7 linked regions of the Homo sapiens genome follow. The protein of the gene in region 1 purifies or fractionates together with the protein of each later gene. This does not show direct contact. Each region holds a gene or a part of one and is shown on either strand. Other genes may lie near its edges.

What was found.
Region 2: the proteins of PCDHB7 (region 1) and PISD purify together in Homo sapiens (affinity purification with mass spectrometry; one large-scale study listed by BioGRID and IntAct). This does not show direct contact.
Region 3: the proteins of PCDHB7 (region 1) and LTAP1 purify together in Homo sapiens (affinity purification with mass spectrometry; 2 studies listed by BioGRID and IntAct, with this or other methods). This does not show direct contact.
Region 4: the proteins of PCDHB7 (region 1) and PIGA purify together in Homo sapiens (affinity purification with mass spectrometry; 2 studies listed by BioGRID and IntAct, with this or other methods). This does not show direct contact.
Region 5: the proteins of PCDHB7 (region 1) and ITGA6 purify together in Homo sapiens (affinity purification with mass spectrometry; one large-scale study listed by BioGRID and IntAct). This does not show direct contact.
Region 6: the proteins of PCDHB7 (region 1) and PDZD8 purify together in Homo sapiens (affinity purification with mass spectrometry; 2 studies listed by BioGRID and IntAct, with this or other methods). This does not show direct contact.
Region 7: the proteins of PCDHB7 (region 1) and POMT1 purify together in Homo sapiens (affinity purification with mass spectrometry; 2 studies listed by BioGRID and IntAct, with this or other methods). This does not show direct contact.

Annotation. Positions count from the first base shown.
Region 1 is NC_000005.10:141,171,459-141,175,443, reverse strand, and holds the start of PCDHB7 (protocadherin beta-7 precursor), read right to left. Parts: upstream 2,801-3,985; 5' UTR 2,609-2,800; coding exon 227-2,608; 3' UTR 1-226. UniProt on the Homo sapiens protein: Potential calcium-dependent cell-adhesion protein. May be involved in the establishment and maintenance of specific neuronal connections in the brain.
Region 2 is NC_000022.11:31,648,716-31,652,215, forward strand, and holds part of PISD (phosphatidylserine decarboxylase proenzyme, mitochondrial), read right to left. Parts: intron 2,064-3,500; coding exon 1,984-2,063; intron 1-1,983. UniProt on the Homo sapiens protein: Catalyzes the formation of phosphatidylethanolamine (PtdEtn) from phosphatidylserine (PtdSer). Plays a central role in phospholipid metabolism and in the interorganelle trafficking of phosphatidylserine.
Region 3 is NC_000001.11:154,214,091-154,217,590, forward strand, and holds part of LTAP1 (protein C1orf43), read right to left. Parts: intron 485-3,500; coding exon 367-484; intron 1-366. UniProt on the Homo sapiens protein: General regulator of phagocytosis. Required to uptake Gram negative bacterium by macrophages.
Region 4 is NC_000023.11:15,325,524-15,329,023, forward strand, and holds part of PIGA (phosphatidylinositol N-acetylglucosaminyltransferase subunit A), read right to left. Parts: exon of another isoform or gene 2,791-3,500; coding exon of another isoform or gene 2,698-2,790; intron 524-2,697; coding exon 391-523; intron 1-390. UniProt on the Homo sapiens protein: Catalytic subunit of the glycosylphosphatidylinositol-N-acetylglucosaminyltransferase (GPI-GnT) complex that catalyzes the transfer of N-acetylglucosamine from UDP-N-acetylglucosamine to phosphatidylinositol and participates in the first step of GPI biosynthesis.
Region 5 is NC_000002.12:172,503,773-172,506,959, reverse strand, and holds the end of ITGA6 (integrin alpha-6 isoform b preproprotein), read right to left. Parts: exon of another isoform or gene 2,870-3,187; coding exon of another isoform or gene 2,708-2,869; 3' UTR 501-2,707; downstream 1-500. UniProt on the Homo sapiens protein: Integrin alpha-6/beta-1 (ITGA6:ITGB1) is a receptor for laminin on platelets. Integrin alpha-6/beta-1 (ITGA6:ITGB1) is present in oocytes and is involved in sperm-egg fusion.
Region 6 is NC_000010.11:117,365,441-117,368,940, reverse strand, and holds part of PDZD8 (PDZ domain-containing protein 8), read left to right. Parts: intron 1-3,500. UniProt on the Homo sapiens protein: Molecular tethering protein that connects endoplasmic reticulum and mitochondria membranes. PDZD8-dependent endoplasmic reticulum-mitochondria membrane tethering is essential for endoplasmic reticulum-mitochondria Ca(2+) transfer.
Region 7 is NC_000009.12:131,519,918-131,522,108, reverse strand, and holds part of POMT1 (protein O-mannosyl-transferase 1), read right to left. Parts: intron 2,030-2,191; coding exon 1,916-2,029; intron 764-1,915; coding exon 637-763; intron 63-636; coding exon 1-62. UniProt on the Homo sapiens protein: Transfers mannosyl residues to the hydroxyl group of serine or threonine residues. Coexpression of both POMT1 and POMT2 is necessary for enzyme activity, expression of either POMT1 or POMT2 alone is insufficient.

The sequences.
Region 1 (3,985 bases):
TATATTAAGCATAATTGTTTGACATAAAACATTACACATATACATTTCATGCTTTGTGAAGGGTTCTTGATACTAAATCAGGATCCTATTTTATGTATAGAAATTTATTGCTTGACTTCAAGAGTACATATTTGAAATGATGTAAAGACACTCCCTTAAGGGAACCTCGCAATAAGTTCCTAATCAGAAACGTATTCACAGACGCGGATTTAGTTTACATTCTTTATCAGAAACCCAAATTATTCTGAAATGGGCGATTTTCTTCCACTTCCCTGCCTGTGCTCTGGGGTAGCAGGTTGGGGATAATTGGTTTCAGAAACTTGAACTCATTTGTCCCGGAGCCTCCAGTCAGGCACACCTCATACTGGTAGCTCTGGGATAGGGTCCCGGTGCCGCTCAAGTCCACCAGATGTCGTGGAAAGGGGCCCTCAGGCACCGAGCAGCGACCCACCGGGGCCGCCCTGCTCCTCCTGCACAGCCGCACCGCCACGAACAGGAGCACCGAGAGGAGGAAGAGCGAAGACACCGAGGCCAACGCCACCACCAGGTAGACGGTGAGCGAGTTGGCCTGGTCCGGGGCCGCCTCCGGGAGCCGCAGGTAGGGCTGGGAGAAGCCGTCCACCAGGAGCACGTGCAGCGTGGCGGTGGCCGAGCGCGGAGGCTCGCCATTGTCCTTGACCAGCACCACCAGCCTCTGCTTGGCTGCGTCGCGCTCGCTCAGCAGCCTGGCGGTACGCACCTCGCCATTGTGCGCCCACACGCCGAATAGCCCGGGCTCCGTGGCCTTGAGCAGCTGGTACGACAGCCAGGCGTTCTGGCCCGAGTCGCCGTCCACCGCCACCACCTTGGTCACCAGGTAGCCCGGCTCGGCCGCCCGGGGCAACGGCTCGGTGCAGGGCGCGGAGCTGTTCTGCAGCGGGTACAGCACGAAGGGCGAGTTGTCGTTGGCGTCCAGCACCAGCACGCGCACCAGCGCCTCGCTGCTCAGCGCGGGGGAGCCGCGGTCTGTGGCGCCCACGCGGAACTCGAACGCCTGCAGGGCCTCGTAGTCCAGGGACCTGAGGGCAAACAGGTGGCCGTTGTCCGCGTTGATGGAGACCAGGGAGGCGAGGGGCAGGTGCGGGTCCTGGGACGGCAGCAGGGAGTAGATGACCTGGGCGTTGGTGCCCGAGTCTCTGTCTGTGGCGCTGACACTGCCGATGGGCAGGGCGGGGCTGTTGTTCTCACGGACAAACAGGGTGTAGGAGGTTTGGGTGAAGGCGGGAGCGTTGTCATTGACGTCGGAGACCAGCACGGTTATGTTGTGCTCGGTTTTCAGCCTGGGTGTCCCCAAGTCGGTGACGGTGATGGTGATGTTGTACTCAGTGTTCCTCTCTCGATCCAAAGGTTTCTCTGTTACCAGAGTATAGAAGTTTTCGACAGATGGCTTCAGGATGAAGGGGACATCGTCCTGGATGGAGCACACTGTCTTTCCATTGTTCCCGGAATCTCTGTCTCTAATCCTAAAAACAGCCACGACTGTCTCGGGTGAGTTTTCTGCAATTGGGCTAGTAAGTGAAGACAGGAGCAGCTCGGGTCGATTATCGTTTATATCTGTTACATCAACCACTACAGTGCATTTTCCAGAAAGCCCGCCGCCGTCTTTGGCCTGAATAGTTAATGTGTAAGTTTGAATTGCCTCATAGTCCAATTGCGCTTTAAGATGAAGACTGCCAGATGTTGGATTGATTTGAAACGTTTTGAGAATTCTTTCAGTGGCGTAAGAAAATGCATAGGCTATTTCCCCATTACTTCCGGTATCTAAATCTCTGGCTGACACGGAGACAACCATGGAACCAACGGGGCTATTTTCGGGCACCTGCACCTTGTAGAGCGACCGCACAAAATCAGGGGCGTTGTCATTTACGTCTAGAACCAGAATGCGCACGAGGGCGGTCCCTGATCTTGGAGGAGAGCCGCCGTCTAAAGCGGTGAGGGTTAAACTGAACTCTGGTATCTCTTCCCGATCCAGCACTTGATTCAGCACCAATTCGGGATAGATATTCCCCTCCCCGCTATCATGGACATTAATATGGAAATAGGCATTGGGGCTGATGGTGTAGTTACTCAGGCTGTTGGTTCCAACATCTGAATCCTGTGCACTCTCTAGGAGAAATGCCGCCCCTGGAGTGGTACTTTCTAATATTTTCAAGGAAATCTCTCTGTCTAGAAATACTGGAGCGTGATCATTGATGTCTCTGACCCATAGTTCAGCACGGAAAATCTGAAAAGGTTTTTCCAATAACAACTGGAAAGGCAGCACACAGGGCTCTCTGGGGCCACACAGTTCCTCTCGGTCCAATTTCTCATTTAGAAGTAGATCACCAGTAAGCGAACTGAGCAGTAAAATTTGCATGTTCTGGTCTGAAACAATTCTAGTTCCCCGGGCTCTCAGTTCCCCTACCCCTAACCCTAGGTCTTTTGCCAAGTTGGTAAGAAAGGTGCCTCTCTCGGTTTCCTCCGCCACAAAATACCGAAGCGGTTCGGCGCCAGCCCAAGACATTCCCAGAAATACACAAAGAAATAAGACTTGCCTTTTCTGCACAGCACGCTCCACTCTGGCCTCCATTCTTCTTTGGATCAGTCTTTCAAAATGACTTTCACTCAGCCTCCAGCGGCTCTCACAAATGGCAGCAGCGGAATCCTTTGAAATGAGCTGAATAATAGCAATGTTTGTGGGGAAGGATCCTCATTTTACCCCAATTCCTATTACCACTGTTTCCTTTCCTATGCTTTTCTCTTCAGATTGCCTCTTTGCTCTGGAATCTGTAACATCCTTTCTTTGTGAAATTATTTTTCTCTCTCTCTTTTTAGCCAGCAGCGCCACCTTGCGTTTTGTGGATGTTATTCCCGTTATCAAGACTAGAACAAAAAGATGGCGGATTGAAGGAATTCTGCAACAAGAATGATTTGTCCCCGGTATCTTTGCTGTTTCATTCCATCTTTATCCTCAAATGGTCACAGTAATGCTAGTAAGTAATAGCTGATGTCGTTTTCCCCTGTGATAATCTGGATTCGTAGAAGAATTAATTTATAGTCTTCTTAAATCTAGGAGCATGAAACTAAACTCTGACTCCCCACCGAAATCCTAAGAAAATCTCCTATTTTAAAAATGGATAGTAAAAATATATATGAGAAAATGAAACCTCCTCCTTGAAGTCAACAAATATTGGTTGGGGACATTTTATTTATTTGTAAAGTATTTAACAATAATAATGTGAATATGGCAGAATAATTGACCCTTTTCCCAATTTCTTGTGAATTAAACAATTATTCCACTTTCCAGGTCTTAACTCTTTACCTGTGATATTTCTTGGAACACTTTATGCCTCCCCCAAACCCAACCTTCATCCTTCACCTGATTTAAGTATTACATAAGAAATTATTGTTCCTCTATAATTTCAGTGACTAGAATCTCCAATGTCCAATGAATACTCTTAAAATTAGTAGTAGCAAGTTGGTCAATCTTGCATTTGTGGAAGTGCTTCTAGCATTTCATCTTCAACTATGATGGTTGATCTCAATTTGGGGTAAATATTCCTTTTTTGAATCAATAAAGTTTTCTTTTTATTCTTTCATATTTTGAAGTGATTTTTGATAGCTGTTGAAATAATACATTTATTCTTTAGTTTCTAAATTACTGAGTTATTGATATAAATGACATTTAACCATAATGTATTATTGTTTTAGTGCACAGATAGATATGATGTGTCAACATGGTTTTAGGATTTTTCTAGTTAATGTTGTTTACCTAGTGCGTGTTTGCCTTTTATGGCCTTGGTATTAAACTATTATACTGGCATCATAGAATGTGTTAGGGAGCTTTTTATCTATTTTATACAATAGTTTTAATAATTATATTATTATATGTTTCTACATGCTTAATTCCAGCTTGTCTTTTAAACTGGTTGGGTTTGGTGACTTCACTTGCAGTAGATCAGTGACT
Region 2 (3,500 bases), on another chromosome or scaffold:
ATATCTAGCAGGCAGGTGCAACCTTGGGCCACTACTCAGACCCTCCTGTCTCCAAATTCTGTCAGTACGTACAGGACAGGCATCTTTCCTATAGAATTACAATGCACCTCAACTGCCACCGCAGTCACAAAATGTATTAATAGATGAAAACACTGAATCGCAAAGAGGTCAAGAAACTAATCAAGGTTGCCCAGGTGGTCACCAACAGGTCCAGAACTTGAAGCCAAACACCATTTCTCACCCAGGGCTCTTTGATCTTGCTTTTATAATGCAGGCCCAATTTTGATCAGGCACTGGTATTCTCTCTCAAATGCAAAATCTCATAAACTCTTACAGGTCAACAATAAAAAGACAAATAGCCAGGCACAGCGGCTTGCACCTATAGTCCCAGCTACTAGGTAGGCTGAGGTGGGAGGATTGCTTGAACCCAGGAGTTCAAGGTTACAGTGAGCTATGATCACGCCACTGCACTCCAGCCTGGGCAACAGAGTGAGACTCTCTCAATCAATCAATCAAAATGTGCAAAGGATTTGAATAGACCTTTGTCCAAAGGAAAAATACATTGGCCAATAAGCACAAGAAAAGACAGAGGCTAAATATCTGTTATGCGTTAAATTGCTGAAAACTCCCCCAAAACTCTTATGTTGAAGTTCTAACCCTGAGTACCTTAGAAGGTGCCCTTAGTTGGCTGGAGAGAGGGTCTTTACAGAGATTATCAAGTTAAAATGAGGTTGCAGGCTGGGCATGGTGGCTCAGGCCTGTAATCCCAGGACTTTGGGAGGCCGAGGCAGGCGGATCACGAGGTCAGGAGATCGGGACCATCCTGGCTAACACGGTGAAACCCCGTCTCTACTAAAAATACAAAAAATTAGCCAGGCATGGTGGTGGGTGCCTGTAGCCCCAGCTACTCGGGAGGCTGAGGCAGGAGAATGACATGAACCCAGGATGCGGAGCTTGCAGTGAGCCGAGATCCCACCACTGCACTCAGCCTGGGCGACAGAGCGAGACTCCATCTCAAAAAAATAAATAAGTAAATAAATAAATAAAATAAAATGAGGTTGCCAAGGTGTGTCCAAATCCAATATGATGGGTGTCCTTATAAAAAGGGAAAATCTAGAAACAGACATGCACACATGGAGAATACCAGGTGAAGCTGAAGGCAGAGATTGGAGTGATGCTTCTATATGTAAGGAATGCCAGAGATTGCCAGCAAAACATTGGAAGCTAGGCAAGAGGCATGGAACAGATTCTCCCTCACAGCCCTCCAAAGGAAGCAACCCTGACACCTTGATCTCAGACATTTAGCCCTAGAATCATGAGGCAAATGTCTGCTGTTCAAGCAACCCAGTTTGTGTTGCTTTGTTACAGCAGCCCTAGCAAACTAATACAACATTATTAGTAATCAGGGAAATGCAAATCAAAACCACAATGAGACCCCTTCACACCCATCGGAATGGCTATAATCAAAAAGACATAATGAGGCCGGGCACGGTGGCTCAGGCCTGTAATGCCAACACTTTGGGAGGCCAAGGTCGGCAGATCACTTGAGGCCAGGAGTTTGAGACCAGCCTGGGCATCATAGCAAAACTTCATCTCTACTAAAAATACACAAATTAGCCAGTATGCACACAGTCTTTGAAATATTAAAAAAACAACAAAAATTAACAATAAAAATTAGCCAGGCGTGGTGGTGCACATCTGTGTCCCAGCTACTTGGAGAATGAGAATTGCTTAAACCCAGGAGGTGGAGGTTTAGTAAGCCGAGATTGCATCATTGCATTCCAGCCTGGGCGACAGAGCAAGACTGTCTCAAAAAAAAAAAAAAAGAAAAAGAAAACCTAACGCTTCAGTGATAACTGCATGCCAGGTACTTTCCACATACTAACTCATTTAACTCTAACAACAACCCTATGTTTATCCCAATTTACAGATGACCAAACTGAGGCAGAGAGAGGGTCACCACCATCTCTAATTGCTCCTTACCTGTGCGAAAGGCTCTAAAAGGCAGCTTCCGTAAGGGCTGTAGGGATTGGCTCAGGGCAGTGATCTCACAGGGATGGAGGCTATAACCAAGCAAAAATGAACCATTAAATATTATTCTTAAAATTAAAATTACTGGATTAATCGGCAAAATTTAAACACTCAATAACAATATTGTAGCAATGTAAATGTCTTGGTTTTGACAACTGTACTGTAGATAAGAAAATGTCCTTGTAGGGGAAGGACTGAAATATTTATTTATTTATTAATTCATTCATTCATTCTTGAGACAGAGACTTGCTCTGTCACCCAGGCTAGAGTGCAGTGCCGCAATCTTGGCTCACTCCAACCTCTGCCTCCCGGGCTCAAGTGATTCTTCTGCCTCAGCCTCCCTAGTAGCTGGGATTACAGGCACCCGCCACCACACCTGGCTAACTTTAGTATTTTTAGTAGAGATGAGTTTTCACCATGTTGGCCAGGCTGGTCTCAAACTCCTGATCTCATGTGATCCACCAGCCTCAGCCTCCCAAAGTGCTGGGATTACAGGCATGAGCCACCAGGCCCAGCCTAGAAAAGGGCTTAAAAGCAAAAGGTCATCAAGTTGGCAAATTGCTCTCAAGTGTCTCAGGAAAAGAATGTATATGTATACACACACATATACATATAAACAGAGATGGAAGATGATAAAGCAAATAGGGCTGACATTTGAGGAATCTAGGTAAAAGGTATTTGGGAATTCTATGTACTATTTCTATAACTTTCTGTAAGCCTGAAACTATTTCCCAATAAAAAGGCTTTTTGGGTTTTTTTTGGGAGGCCGAGGCGGGCAGATCACCTGAGGTTGGGAGTTCGAGACCAGCCTGACCAACATGGAGAAACCCCATCTCTACTAAAAATACAAAATTAGCTGGGTGTGGTGGCACATGCCTGTAATCCCAGCTACTTGGGAGGCTGAGGCAGGAGAATCACTTGAACCCGGGAGGCAGAGGTTGAGATGAGCTGAGATCGTGACATTGCACTCCACCCTGGGCAACAAGAGCAAAACTCCGTCTCAAAAAAAAAGGAAAATACTATTCTGGTTCAGTTACTTTCTCTTCTTTGTTTCATCTTTGCCTGAAGAAATAAGACATATTCCCAGTGGCAATAAATGACTATGCCAGCAAGCAAAGCATTAATGAGTTTTTAGTTGAGTTTCCCCTTAATCAAAGAGGAAATATCTCACTTTCAGTTCAGATATCACTTCAGTTTCACCAAATACTGACCTGAAATCTAAAGTTAAAAAACTGTATCCGAGTCAATAAACATTTTTTTCCTTGGAACCCTTTATGATAGAATAATTCACTCTATTATAAATGTTTAAATTGATATTTTTGTGAAAAATAGAATTGCATTTATTACTTTCACACTATAATATTTACTTTCGTGGATATTTAGTTATGTCTTTTGTGTGTGTGTGTGTGTCTGTGACAGAGTCTCACTCTGTTACCCAGGCTGGAGCGGATTTTGGCTCACTGCAACCT
Region 3 (3,500 bases), on another chromosome or scaffold:
AACATGGAGAAACCCCGTCTCTAGTAAAAACACAAAATTAGCCAGGCGTGGTGGCGCATGCCTGTAATCCCAGCTACTCAGGAGGCTGAGGTAGAAGAATTGCTTGAACAAGGGGGTGGAGGTTGCAGTGAGCTGAGACTGCACCATTGCACTCCAGCCTGGGCAACAAGAGTGAAACTCCATCTCAAAAAAGAAAAAAAAAATTCCCCAAACTCCAGCAAGCTAATAAATGGGCTCTGCATCTAACATATATCCAATAACAGGAATAACTAAGGCTTTGCCAGCAGCTTTTGACAACTCTGAGAGAAAAGGAATTCTGGACTTGTGGGACTCCTCACTGAAGCATTCCAAGAGCTTGCCACATACTTTGATTTCCCTGGGTTTCCAGTTGTAGTAGTCTAGCATCATCATCTGCAAGGAGCTGGGGCTCATACTTGATATCCTGAACCCTGGAGAGTCGAATATCAATCTCCTCTTTCAAGTCCTGTTCACATAAAAAAAGAATACACAATCATTTACCCTGCACTCTGCTTTCCACCAATGTGAAAATGGGGCAGAGTTAATGAATAACTAAGACAACAGAAATAGAGACCATGCTCATGTAGTTAATAAAATTACCAGATAAGAGGTAAGAATTTAGGAAAGAACGGGATTGGGTTTTCCAATAACCTCTCCAAGCTGCACATCTCTAAGCTAGAACATTTAACTTGTGCCAGAAATCCTTCAAGCTATACAGCACCAACATTATTTCCAATTTTTTTTTTTTTTTTTTGAGACAGAGTCTTGCTCTATCACCCAGGCTGGAGTGCAGTGGCGCAATCTCAGTTCACTGCAACCTCCGCCTCCCAGGTTCAAGCAATTCTCCTGCCTCAGCCTCCAGAGTAGCTGGGATTATAGGCGCGTACGACCATGTCTGGCTAATTTTTCTATTCTTAGTAGAGATGGGGTTTCACCATGTTGGCCAGGCTGGTCTCAAACTCCTGACCTCAAGTGATCCGCCTGCCTTGGCCTCCCAAAGTGCTGGGATTACAGGTGTGAGCTACTGCGCCCAGCCTCTCTTGCCTCAGCCTTCTGAGCAGCTAGGATTACAGGTATGCACCTAGCTAGAGGCTACTTTAAAAAAAAATTAACACATATTTCTTTTAAAATAGCCAAGTCAAATTCATGGTATACAAATTTTAAAGATAGTAAAGGGGCCGGGTGCTGTGGCTCACGCCTGTAATCCCAACACTTTGGGAGGCCGAGGTGGGTGGATCACAAGGTCAGGAGATCGAGACCATCCTGGCTAACACGGTGAAACCCTGTCTCTACTAAAAATACAAAAAATTAGCCGGGCGTTGTGGCGGGGTCCTGTAGTCCCAGCTACTCGGGAGGCCGAGGCAGGAGAATGGCGTGAACCCGGGAGGCAGAGCTTGCAGTGAGCCGAGATTGCGCCACTGCACTCCAGCCTGCGTGACAGAGTGAGACGTCTCCAAAAAAAAAAAAAAAGATACTAAAGGTAGCACCTCTCAGTTACCCAGCAGCAACTACTATTTTCAGTTTCATATTAATCTCTCTTACCTAAGAGGGTTACCAGAGCCCCAGGAAATAAATTTTTTGTTGTAACTTTTTACAAACTCCCATTGTGAAACATAAGATACACAAAATACAGGTAACATAGATGTACATTTTAAATAATTATAAAAAGCATAATAATGAACACCTATAACCAATATCCAGTTTATGCAATGGAACATTACCACTAACTTTCTTTTTTTTTTTTTTTGAGACGGAGTCTCGCTCTGTCGCCCAGGCTGGAGTGCAGTGGCGCAATCTCAGCTCACTGCAAGCTCCGCCTCCCGGGTTCACGCCATTCTCCTGCCTCAGCCTCCCGAGTAGCTGGGACTACAGGCGCCCGCCACCACGCCTGGCTAATTTTTTGTATTTTTAGTAGAGACGGGGTTTCACCTTGTTAGCCAGGTTGGTCTCGATCTGCTGACCTCATGATCCACCCGCCTCGGCCTCCCAAAGTGCTGGGATTACAGGCGTGAGCCACCGCGCCCGGCCCTACCACTAACTTTCAAGTCTTGTGTGCCCATCCCTCATTGAATGCTCCGCACCCCAAACCTTAACTTGTCAATAGTCCTCATACACTTCTTCACTGTTTTATCGTGTCACCCTAAAAAAGATGCTTAGCTTTGCCTGGTTTTCAACTTGATACAAATGGAAAAATACTTTAAGAATCCCTCTGCAACTTGTTTAAAAAAAAAATTTTTTTTTTTTGAGACAGGGTCACACTCTGTCACCCAGGCTGGAGTGCAATGGCACAATCTCAGCTCACTATAACCTCCACCTCCTGAGCTCAGATGATCCTCCTGCCTTAGCCTCCTGAGTAGCTGGGGTTACAGGCACACACCACCATGCATGGCTAATTATTAAACATTTTTTTTTTTTGAGATGGAGTCTTGCTCTGTCACCCAGACTGGAGTACAGTGGCATGATCTTGGCTCATTGCAACCTCTGCCTGCTGGGTTCAAGCAATTCTCCTTGCCCTCCTGCCTCAGCCTCCCAAGTAGCTGGGACTACAGGCGCATGCCACCATGCCCAGCTAATTTTTTGTATTTTTCGTAGAGATGGGGTCTCACCATGCTCGCCAGGCTGGTCTCAAACTCCTGACCTTGTGATCTTCTCATGTGGGCCTCCCAAAGTGCTGGGATTACAGGCGTGAACCACCGCGCCTGGCCCATTTTTAAACTTTTTATAGAGACAGGGTTTCCCCATATTGCCTACGCTGGTCTCGAACTCCTGAGCTGACGTGATCAGCCTGCCTCGGCCTCCCAAAGTGCTAGGATTACAGGTGTAAACCACCTCGCCTGGCCTTAAATTTTTTTTTTTTTTGATACAGAGACTCACTCTGTCACCCAGGCTGGAGTGCAATGGTGTGATCTCTGCTCACTGCAACCTCCGCCGGGGCTCAAGTGATTCTCCTGCCTCAGCCTCCTGAGTAGCTGGGATTACAGGCACACACCGCCACGCCCAGCTAATTTTTTTGCATTTTTAGTACAGTCGGGGTTTCACCGTGTTGGCCAGGCTGGTCTTGAACTCCTGACCTCAGGTGATCCACCTGCCTCAGCCTCCCAAAGTGCTGGGATTACAGGCGTTAGCCACCGCACCCAGCAAAATTTTTCAAATATACTTTATTGAGGTTGAATTTACATACAATAAATGCATTCATTTTATGTATATAAATTGATGAGTTTGACAAATGAACATACCCCCTTCACCACCACGTCAATCAAAGTAAAGAATATTTTCATCACCTGGAAATCTCCCCTCTCCCAGCCCAGGCAACATGATGTACTCTTTTACAGTTCTGCCTGTTCTAGAATTTCATATAAATGGGGTGGAAGCACATGGTACATATTCTCTTGTGAACGGCATTTTGGCTTTCTTCACTCAGCATGGTTTTTTTGTTTTTGGTGAGACAGAGTCTCGCTCTGTCACCCAGGCTGGAGTGCAGT
Region 4 (3,500 bases), on another chromosome or scaffold:
GTAAGTTACTGAGGAAGAGACTTGTCCAAATCTGTATGTGCAGAGCAATTTACATGATTTGAGCCCTATTACTTAAATCACTACACAGTATGGCCTGGAAATCTGCAAACGCTTCCAGTTAAAGCAGCTGTTTTTTGTGCCTTTCATGGTGCCTCCAACAATGGCCCCCCAAAGTCAAATAATATTGGGCTAATGGAAAAAATAGTGAATTAACTAGGTTTCCTATTTATATAAAAATTTTGAAAACAGTCCTTGCATTAGATTTATATCAATTATATGTATATCAATTACATGCAGGAGAAGCAACACACCTAAGGTACGCATGCAGTTAAAACCAAATAGAGATAATTGACATCTTCTCCCTCAAGACAACATGAAATTCATCAATACCTGTCATGCAGCTGGTATCTTTCCCGAACTTCTTCCAAAATGATTCTCTTTGGTCCCTCTCCTCCAATTATGAAATTTAAATCTGGATATTTCTGACAGAGTTCAGGTATTATACCACTAAGCAAATCGATCCCTGAAAATATAAAGTTGAATGTTGGAGATATTAATATTTAAACTTAAAAAAATTCACCAGAACGACTGAGAATCCACTTATTTTGAAAAGTATTAGCTATGCACTCCATAAAGGAGAGAAACTCTCTTAAACCTTTTCCAGGAGTGGAATTGTTTGCAAACTGGCAGTGGTCCCCCAAGAGTTACAATTCTTGAAGACGTAGACCTTGACATGCATTACCTTCCACACACCCAAAATATGGACTATTCTGTTTCATCTCAACAGACTATTCTTTAAGTTATTCACTTGTGTTTATACATTGCGTACTTCTAAAAAAGGTATATTTAAGGTGGCTAAGGTTTGAGTTCGTTTTCTCCAGAGCAGGCAGCTGATTGGAGATCTGGGTCTTTTCCCAGCTTTTTTAACCAGCAAGCCCATTGATCGTGGGGAAGTTTCAAGATCTATAAAATAAAGATACCTATGTACCTAAAGTCTCTTTCAGCTATAAAATTCTATCAGTCTGTGATCCCACTTACTGCCACAGGAAAAGGCTAAGCAACGAAATCTAACTGCTGCCTCCACTTTGTTTAAAATGTGGCTGGTACAGAGAATTTTGCAGTGAACACTACATTATCGCAAAATTTAAGTTCAAACCAGCTATAGCCCACTTTCCTGGAATGAGGGTAAATGAAGGCAGCAGGGCATCAACTGTTAGATCACTACAGTCCATAGAACAAAAGGATGCATCTTGGCTCCTTTTTTCTCCAAAATGATTTTCTTATAATATATAAACACAATCTCAGGTAATAGAAAACAATAAAGTAAATTATGCCCTATTAGTCTGAAAAAGTGAGTGGCTATCCAAAGTCCCAACAATGTCAACACTATTTAAGAATCTAGTTCATTAACAATTACAAAACGTACATATTCAAAAGTAAGAGTAGGCAGGGCGCGGTGGCTCACGCCTGTAATCCCAGTAATCCCAGCATTTCGGGAGGCCAAGGCAGGCGGATCACAAGGTCAGGAAATTGAGACCATCCTGGCTAACATGGTGAAACCCCGTCTCTACTAAAAATACAAAAAATTAGCCGGGCGTAGTGGCGGGCGCCTGTAGTCCCAGCTACTCCGGAGGCTGAGGCAGGAGAATGGCGTGAACCCGGGAGGCGGAGTTTGCAGTGAGCCGAGATTGCGCCACTGCACTCCAGCCTGGGAGACAGAGCGAGACTCCGTCTCAAAAAAAAAAAAACAAAAAAAAAGTAAAAGTAAATATAAAATAATCCACCTAGAGCTAAGTTTATTAATTTTAAAAATGCACACACACATAAGAATTGTATTTCTTAATCTTCCACCCCAAATAGGCAGATCAGTTATAAAATAGATGATATTTTATATCAGATATAAAATAGGAGAAATGACATATATATTATAGGGTCATTTTTATTAAATAATACAAAGTAGAATTCATTAAGTAAACTCTGCTAGTACTTTCAAACTGTTATTGTATGTATCAAAAATTCCCACGCAGCTTTTCTGAATATGAAGGCTTCTCATTAAAATCATAGCTATCTTTGTTTCATGTCTACTAACAAATCACTCAATTGGATTTCTAGATAAACCAGAAGGTAGTTTAATGACTTTTAACATTTAGTCTCCTACAATTCCTTCAATCCATTTTCTTCCTCACCCTTTTCTTTCTCGTACAAGGTTAAGAGCCCATTCTTCAAACAAACAAAAAACAACATAGAGCAATAGTCATAAATGATAATAGCTAACAGTAACAGAGTGCTTGCTATGACAGGCAATATACTTTAAATTCATTATGTCATTTAATCCTGACAAGTATCTCATAAGAAATGGAACTGATTACTATTACCAATGATCTATATTCTTATTCTAAGAATAAGGGCTTTTCCCCACCACTATAAAAAAATTTATTCTGGAGCCTCTAAGAAGGGTATAATGCAATGGAACCTAGAGACTTTCGACTGCCATGTGAACACAAAACAGACAATGAAAATCTCTGATCCAAACTGCTTTTAAAGCTCAGTCTAACAATATTTTTAAGAACCTTCTGATCTACACCTAGGATATGAGTGGCTGGGCATGGGTGGAGGAAGAGGAGAACTTAGCTCCAGAAAAGCTGAACTCGTGTGTCATCTCTGTTACTTACTGTGTAACCTGGGTGAGTTACTTACCCTCTCTGAGACTCAATTTCATGTAGATAACATCTACCCTACAGTTGTTGGGAGGGTCAAATGAGGTATTGTACCACGAACAGGCTTTATCAACTGCAGAATACAAATGTAGGTTGTCATTACCACTACAGAAGGAAGCAGGTGAGCGTGCCTACACATGCAGAGTGCTGGTAAATCCTGACTGAGAGCAAAACAGGCTTGGAAGAGGAGGCTCAGGAAAAAGACATCCAAAAAGCCTGGATAAGGAAAACTTTGATTTATCCTCTCTCTCACTTAAGACATTCCAGTGGGACTTTGATATCTGGTCCAATAAACTCCTGAGGAAATTAATTTGTTAATAAGGAATGGACCATTAATACAACTACTCACTTTTGGGCTACAGGCATGGCTGTTCCTTTTCAGAATGTTACTTTCTGCAGGGTGCCTGGCATCTGGAGAGGGTTCGATAAATAACTGTTCAATTACTGAATTGAGTACAGGAAAGGCCATACCATCACTCCATTGGTGGTTAGCTCAGCTAGTTAAAATACCACATTAGGGAAGTAAAGGTAACAGGTTTAATCTTTGCATGGGTAGTTAATTTTGCTGATCCTTGATCACACTTGTGTCATACTCTTTCTCAGCTAGCCATCTCAAGAAGATATGCTATTTGGTTAAAAAATAAATTAGGTACAATTCCTAAGTTACAAAAAAACACATCACTAATGTCCCAGGAGGAATTCAGAATACAGAATGCCAGTCGGTTCACATGTTCCTGATTAAAGAATGAAAGCATGTCATTGCCTTCAAACCAGAAAATGAAG
Region 5 (3,187 bases), on another chromosome or scaffold:
AGAAGGCCAAGATTTTATGTAATGCCAAGTATAGTGGAGAGCTATTACCTAATATATTAGACAGACATTTATTCAGGCCAGGGCACACTATATTGTCTAGGCATTTTATATATATATATGTGTGTGTGTGTGTGTGTGTGTGTGTGTATATACGTATATATGTATATATATATTTATATATATTTATATATTTATATTTATATATATTTATATATTTATATATTTTATTTTCTTGTATTAGGTTGTGATAATCCAGCTAGAGAAGTTTCATAAAACTCAAATCTAAAATCTTTCTTTTGCTGAAGAAAATATTTTCTGACTAGTTGATTCTGCCACACACGTCACAGCTAGCCTGCTCCCACATCCAAAACATATTCTAAGAAGGAAGCAGCTTAGCTGTCAGAATTTTTTTTAATGCCAGGTTATCATTGCTAAGCAATTCCCTATCCTTACAAGGACAGGCAGTGAAGAGGAGGATTCAGTCCAAAGACAACTCCCAATTTGTAGGTTGTTAAATACCTGTAGGTTTCTTTTAATCATAAAGAAGGAAAATGAAAGACTTGAGGATCACCTACATAGAGCGAAAACAGAAAAAAACCCCGAATCCCATTGCTTTGGCACTAGTATCTTTGGCTGATCTGAGATTACATGAGACACCAAAAATAAAAACACTGAACTTTGGTTTGATGAAATAGATAATTCAGGTTGTCATTTATAATTTTAGAGTTTGCTTCACATATACAATGCTGTGTTACGAAACAATGAACACTTTTATAAAAAATTTATTTCACACTTTTATACAAATATCCACAGGTAATTTCTAATCATGAAATAATTTTACAATGCTAGTTAGTACAAAAATGTATCAAATGCAAACAGACCAGTGACTTGACTTGAGATGACATTTTTAACAACCATAAATCTAAACACCATAACATCTTTGTTTCTTTGTTGAACCACCCTCCCAACACCCTTTTCAGGACATTCATCTTTTTTTTAGTAACACAGGTCTAAAAACACTGTCAAAGTATCAGCTCCTTAGCAATCTAGCAATCTAAACACATTAGGGACACAAGTTCCCCAAGCAAGAAACTGAGACTTTAAACACTGTTATAACCTGTTTTACAGAAATTTTTGTAAACAAAATATATTTTGTGACTAAGAATTCCAAAGTACAACCAAAACAACGTCCTTAGTATCTTAAGGTTTAAGATTTCCGAAAAGAAAAAAGCCCCCCCAAAACAACAGTGGCACTACAAACTGTGTTCTATTCTTTCAAAACACAGACACTGCTTATACTATATCCAAAACAAATTAGCACCTGTTTGCTGTTGCTCCCCATATAACTTAACATTGTGAAGCATGGTAATTAAAAAAAATCAGCTTTCATATCTATTCAGTCTCTGTTGAATGTATAGAGTAATAATTCCACCCCCTGCCATTTTTACAATTAAAACACAATTTAAAGTTCTTGTTAAATTAGCCCCAAAGTAATTTTTGGGAATACAGATAGGGGAGGAAACAAAACAAAAAATAGAACATCGACTCACTGATTAACTGTTTTGGTAGCAGATTCAGTAGTCTTATACTGGATCAGTTTGGATCCACCATAGGCATTCACCATTTCTTTCAAGTCCTGAATATACAGTATTTGCAGCAGTGAGTAAACCGCACTAGAGTTCAGTGAATAAACCCATTTTCTCCAAGAATTCCTGAATGTTACAGTATGAAATCCAGAAACATTATGCAGGCTTCTAAAGTAAAAAATATCCAATGCCTGAAATAAACATCTTTACAGTTATAATTCTATTTCTTAAACCTTTTGGGTTGTGGGGTGGAGGCTGTCATGAAGGAGAGGTTATAGTTTATAGATAAGTTATTAAAACAACTCTCTCTGGTACATTTATAAAGATTTTCTTTTTGCAGTAAATAATTTAGGTCAAAGTGATGACCTCCCATGCTCTAATTCTGATTGATTAAACCAACCTGAAGGGTAAACTGGAGACTCTTTGGCCTGTTAGTCAATAACAAAATGGTTTGTAAAGAAAAGAAAAAATAAATACCATATACAAATAAGTATAACTAGCATTCAAGTCTGTTGCACCTGTGTGTTTTAGTGAAAGGGAGAATGAAACTTGTATGCATTTGACGTGAGCAGGTATTCACACAGCTAGGAAACAGGAAAAGACGGTAGGATGGCAACATCACCTTCTATTGCACATTTAGTTTAAGACAGCACTTTCCGTTGAAACACAACTACCCCAATGGCATAGTCTTGTGATGTGGGACAGCTAACGTGATGGACGTCTGCGCAGCAGGCCCGAGGTTAGGACGGCCACTCTGTTAGTGCAGGTGAGTGTAGGTGCCTCCTCAGCTACACTATCTGGAGGATGTCACCTGAGTGCAACTGGGCAGGCCCTTCCCCAACACATGATGTAAGTCAGCCACGCCAAAAATAAAGGCAACCCAGAAAGTTAAATTACGGCAGTTAAAGAAAAATCCATTCCAACAGTTTTAAATTTGGCTGTGCAAAACAGGAGCCTTAGGCTACGTAACAATATCCACAGTTAAAACTGTAGGTTCGTACTGTGTGTAGTCACTCTGAAATCAGTCCTCAGGGATTGAGCAGGCTTTTAAATCCAAATTGAATTTCTGAGTTGGAAAAAGCAGTTTGGGTACTGTGAAGCTTTTTTTTTTTAGGCCCCCGCTATGAGTAGCTTTCATTTTCGTTCCACTTTGTGATCCACTGTTTTTTTTCAAGGTTATCAATATACTTTTCATCTTTGATCTCTCGCTCTTCTTTCCGGATCCTTACAGCATGGTATCGGGGAACACTGTCATCGTACCTAGAGCGTTTAAAGAATCCACACTAGAGAAGAGGGAAAGAGAAAGAGAAACAAATTAATCTCACAAAGAAGCAAATACACTAAATGGGAATGTCTAAGCTTTCTGTTCAGCTATGTCTACCTCTGGACTAAGGGGAAAAAGACATGGTTTTCTTTTAAGAAAGAACCAAGAGGCTGAAATGAAAGAAGAGCCAGTGGGGATCAACGGAAGAGAACAGCTGTAAAACTGGAAGAAAAGTCCATTTTCATCTTCTCTTTACATTTTATAACAAATGTAGGCTACCTCTTTACTAACAATTTAAGAGTTTATGAAAACAGTGCTTCCATATTTAAAAATAATC
Region 6 (3,500 bases), on another chromosome or scaffold:
GAGGTTGCAGTGAGCCAAGATTGCGCCACTGTATTCCAGTCTGGGCAACAGAGTGAGACTGTCTCAAAAAAAAAAAAAAAAAAAAAAAACATTGTCAATATAATGTTGAATTTTAAAAAGTCACTCTGCCAGAAAAAAAAAAATGCCTTGAAATGCAATCCATTTTTCTACCATGTAGTGATGGTAAGTAGATAGTGTCTCCTTTTTGTTCGAGTTTGGTGGATAGTTTGCTTTAGTGGAATGGGTCATTAATAACTATGTAAGCATTTACTTCACTGATCTCCAAAAAGGGGGGCATCAACTTATTGACAGTATATTTGAATTTAATGAATTGAGTGATCCGTATCTCAAAATCTTTCAAAGTAAATTCACAGAAAACTGACAAAATCATTTGTAAAGTCAAGTGTAATATGTTGTATTTATTTACTTTTTCATACTTTTTTCCTTTCTATTACATTGGAAAATATTTTAAAATAGCTACTAAAATTCCTTGATGGTTATAATAGTGACAGTTTTACTTACTAATGTTGATAGGAAATCTAACCTTTAATATTTGGGGAGAATAGACAATGGCATTGTGCATTACTCTAGCTATGCTGGAATAATCTTGTAATAGCTAATTTTTAACCTGTTGTGCTTTTTCTTGTACTGTTGCTCATATCTCTATATCTCGTCATATCTCTGTATAAGTTGAATTGCAAGATCATTGTCTTAGAGATGAATAATTATGTCATTTAAAAAATAGTCATTTATCTTCAGTAAGTGCTTAGTGCATACTACCTAGTGTTGCGGTGGGTATAGTAAACGTGATAAAAATGGTTATAAACTAGTTCATGCTATTATAGGGTTAGTCTTTCTAGGGAAAACAAAGAACACATAAAGCTTATTTTAGTGGCATTGGAAATATTTAAGCCCTTCAGTTTTGTGAGAAACTGGAACAGGAGAGATCAATATCTCTGCTCTGCTAAGGCAAACACCTGATTACTGTGGTACCGTATGTAATGCATTGTGACCTTAGCTTTTTTTTTTTTCCTCTCTCGTTGCCCAGGCTGGAGTGCAGGTGCATGATCTCGGCTCACTGCAACCTCCGCCTCCCAGGTTCAAGCAGTTCTCCTGCCTCAGCCTCCCACAGGCGTGTGCCACAATGCCCAGCTAATTTTTTTATTTTTAGTAGAGATGGGGTTTTGCCATGTTGGGCAGGCTGGTCTTGAACTTCTGACTTCAGGTGCTCTGTCTGCCTCGGCCTCCCAAAGTGCTGGGATTACAGGCATGAGCCACCACATTAGCTTTCTTAGCACACCTAAGTGTACTCCACCTAAATACCCAGTTTAGTGCTGATTTTACTTCTTGCACATTGGATTTCCTCCAGCTGCTTTGAATTATTTTAATTTCAGCTTTTAAAACACTTTAGATGGAGAATAATGTATTGATACATTACATCTTTGCTCTAGAAATTTGATTTATTCATTGAGGGGAGAATAGTCATTTTGAGGAGGCTATAATTTTTGTTTGTTTGTTTGTTTGTTTGTTTTGAGACGGAGTCTCACTCTTGCCCAGGCTGGAGTGCGGTGGCGCTATATTGGCTCACTGCAACCTCCACCTCCCGGGTTCAAGCAGTTCTCCTGCCTCAGCCTCCCAAGTAGCTAAGATTGTAGGCGTATGCCACCACACCCGGCTAATTTTCACATATTTAGTACAGACAGGGTTTCACCATGTTGGCCAGGCTGGTCTCCAACTCCTGGATTCTAGTGATCCCCCCGCCTCAGCCTCCCAAAATGCTGGGATTACAGGTGTGATTCACACCCTGCCGGGAGGCTATAAATTCAAATCAGTAATGTACAAGTATATTGGCTATCCCAAAAAGCCACAGTTTCTTCCTGGAAATAGCCAAAGCAGATCATTATAAAGTAGATTGTGTTGAAGGAGCATGCCTGATCAAATACTAAACGTTGACTTACAAGTATTACTAACAATCTATCATATGAGCAGGGTGGGGCTAATAAAACACTGTTTGCTAAGTATTCATTAGGCACTGTGTGGGCATTTCCATGCAGTTGCAATCTCAATAGTTAAAACTCCTATGTGGGAGAGGTTGGTATCTCAGTTTTACAGATGTGGAAATATGCGATTTACGGAGGATTAGTGATATAAAGTCCTAAATGTAAAAGGTCCTGGACTTCCAGAGCTCATGCTCTATTATTTCTTCAGAGATAAACCAACTGTTACTCTAAATCAGGGGTCTGCAAACTAGCTGCTGTTAGGCCCCTGCATTAAGAATGGTTTTTACATTCTTAAACTTTATATTTGACGTTGTTAAAAGAAGTACTGGTGGTGGTGGTGGTGGTGGTAATGGTGGTGACAGTGGTGGTGGTGGTAGTGGTGGTGGTAGTGACAGACCTTATGTACCCACAAATACTATCTGGCCTTTTACAGAAAAGATTCACTGATCCCTGCTCTAAACTTTAAAAAAAAACCCTAAAAATACACCCCCCTCAACAGTTACAATGTTTACCAAAAAAGAAGCTATATATGTGTACATTGAAAGTACTTTTAAGTCTTTGAGGGTCCTGTCCTTTGGAAACCTGCAGAAAATTTCTGCAGAAAACAAATTTTCTGCATAAAAATATTTCATTTAAGTTCATAGTTCCCTTGAAGCTTTTTTAGGGTCCTTAGACTTTAGGTTGAAAAATAAACACAAACAGAAGTATACAACTTTGTTACCGTAAACATAACTAAAACTAACATGCTGAAATCAATATTAACCACTTCATTATTTTGCTTACCTTCTTAAAATGTATATAGGATTCATATGGCTCAGGCGTTTCTAAAAATGCTGGAGGAGGGGGTAATCCCTCTCTCTATCCTATGAAGTGTATGTCTTTTTGATTCTTTTTTTTTTCCTCTTAAGATTTCATATAGCAGGCTGAGGGACTCTAGATCAATAGTTCAGTAAGAATATATGAAATTTCAAGTTAGAGTTCTTATTACTAAATACCTTGTTTAAAAGTTAAATACTGACTCAACATTTCTTCCCATGATATTCTCTGTTTTCTCAGAACAGTGTCACCAGGAAACAAGTATTATTAAATGACTTTGTTCTTACCTCAGAGTCATAGGACGTACTGACACTTTTTTGGCATGGCATCAGAGCACATCACACTTAATTGGAAAGTTTTAAAGCCAACTACCTGGTCATTAGCAGGTGTTTTACAGAGTAGTTTCAAAATCTCTCTTGCCAAATTGCTAAGACTGGCATAAAACTGTACACTTCCTGTATTTGTACTAGGGAAAAATGTGATATGCACGTTAATTATTTACCTTTAGATGAGCAGTACTAATTTTACTAGATATATATCAGATATTTTCTAGGTGACACATTATATTCTTTTCCCTTTCAAATGAGCGACAAACTCACTTTAAAAATTCAAGCTGTTAGAAAATATGTAGTATCAAAGTGAAAATCTTCTGTAATATCTTTTCTTAAAACTATTGTTAAATTC
Region 7 (2,191 bases), on another chromosome or scaffold:
GTAGTTCACTGCCCAGCCACCGGCACACAGCGCCCCAGCCAGCACCCAGCGCAGCCAGGCATCTATAGGAAAGGGCTCGAGCTACACCGACTCTGCTGCTCCCACAGGCCGGGTCTTCTCTCTCTTTTGCTTTTTTAGAGAGAGGGTTCTTACTATGTTGCCCAGGCTGGTTTTGAACTCCTGGCCTCAGGTGACTCCCTCACTTTGGCCTCCCAAAGTGCTGGGATTACAGGTGTAAGCCACCGCGCCCGGCCTGGCTGCCTGTGTTACCCAGCCATTTCCAGCGCATACGGGCAACATGGGACCAAGAGGGCAATTCCTGCCCAATACGCTGCACTCGACTGGAGACACCTCTAACGCAACATGGGAACTTAACATTTTGTCTCTTGGGAGACAAACATAATTTAAGATTCCACAATACAGAAACAAAGAGGCCGCGTTAAGGGGTAGGTTCCTATGAAGTCGGTTTGTCACTTGAGGCGGTGAATGCTCAGCGCACACCTGTAATCCTAGCACTATGGGAGGCCGAGGCAGGAGGATCGCTTAAGCCCAGGAGTTCAAGAACACCCTGGACAACACAGCAAGACCCCATGTCTATATTAAAAAGAAAGAAAGCCATGTGGGAGAGGTACTAACCCTGAGGGAGGTCATGGACATTTCTTCGCCGTCGGAGCAGGTACCACAAGGACAGCAGGGCGTAGATGGCCAGAGCGAGGCTGCCCGAAACCCAGATCACTATGTTTCCAAGTAGGTGGATCTGAGCCTAAGGGAACATGGGAGATGCTGTTAGCCACCTGCCCTCTGCTCAGGGAGGGAAGAGAAGAGAACACAGGAAAGGAATTCAGATGCACGCACTACTTTAGCAGAGTGAAAAAACGCCAGGCACAGCCTAGCATCCACTAGGCCTTACTACTACTGTGGACAGGTCTGCTCCTACTCAGACCTTTCATTAAAAGCACTGATGCCAGCCGGGTGTGGTGGCACATGCCTGTAATCCCAGCACTTTGGGAAGCTGAGGTGGGCAGATCACCTGAAGTCAGGAGTTTGAGACCAGCCTGCCCAACGTGGCGAAACCCCGTCTCTATTAAAAAGTACAAAAATTAGCTGGGCATTGCGGTGGGCACCTGTAATACCAGCTACTTGGAGGCTGAGGCAGGAGAACTGCTTGAACCTGGGAGGTGGAGGTTGCAGTGAGCCAAGATCACGCCACTGTACTCCAGCCTGGATGACAGAGCAAGACTCCGTCTCTCTCTTTCTCTCTCACATACACACACACACACAGCACTGATGCTCTCAATTTTGTAATTGGAAACTGAAAATTGGGAGCAGATGACTCCACTTTGTAACAGCAGCGCTGTCCACGGAGGAGAATGCAAAGTGCGCTCAGAGCTCGGGGTGGGGCGGCCTCTGGGCCTGAGCCTCTGCCTTCAGTGCACATGCTGAGCCGACCTACCCGCCTCTGAGGGAGGAGGAAAAAGGTGGGCATTTCCAGCGTCTGCCCATTCAGTGAATATTTATGGGGCGCTGACTGTGCGCCCGGCCTACCAATGCTTTCACTCTGCCGGGTGGAGAGACGGCACGCACATCAGCAAAGCACCGGTAAGCTCCACCACCAGGTGCCACACGGAAAATTGAATGGGAATATCTTAAAACCACTTTCGCCAGGAAAAGGGGAACAATGTGTCTCCACAAAAGCAATCAAGCCGGGTTTCCTTCAACAGGCACACATGCCACACCCCTACTCCTGGCTCCAGGTTGCCAAAGCGTTTAGAGAAAACCAAGTCACAGGCCTTTGTCAGGAAAAGCTTGGGAGAAACCCAGCACTTTCTAGGGTGCAGCGGCTGCTCTTAATGCAAGGAATTCTCAAGAAACAGGATGAATCTATGACTGTCAGCTGTCAGCATCGCTCGCTTACGCTGGTCCTGGGGTGCAGCCAGTAGGCAATATTGGTGTCCAGGGTGACCCACTCCAGTGGGCTGGAGCTGTACTTGTGTTCCGAGTCATCACTTCTCAGCGCCAGCATCCTCCACTGGAACAAAGCAGAGGCCTCTGAGATTGAGGATGGGGGATGCCTCCCGCTGTGCGTGGATTTGGTCAAAGGAGTACACTGCTGCCCCTTGCACGTGGACTGGCCCAGCTCAAGTTCATTCGGATCATGCATCGGAGGCAGCATGATGAGAACCTGGATTCC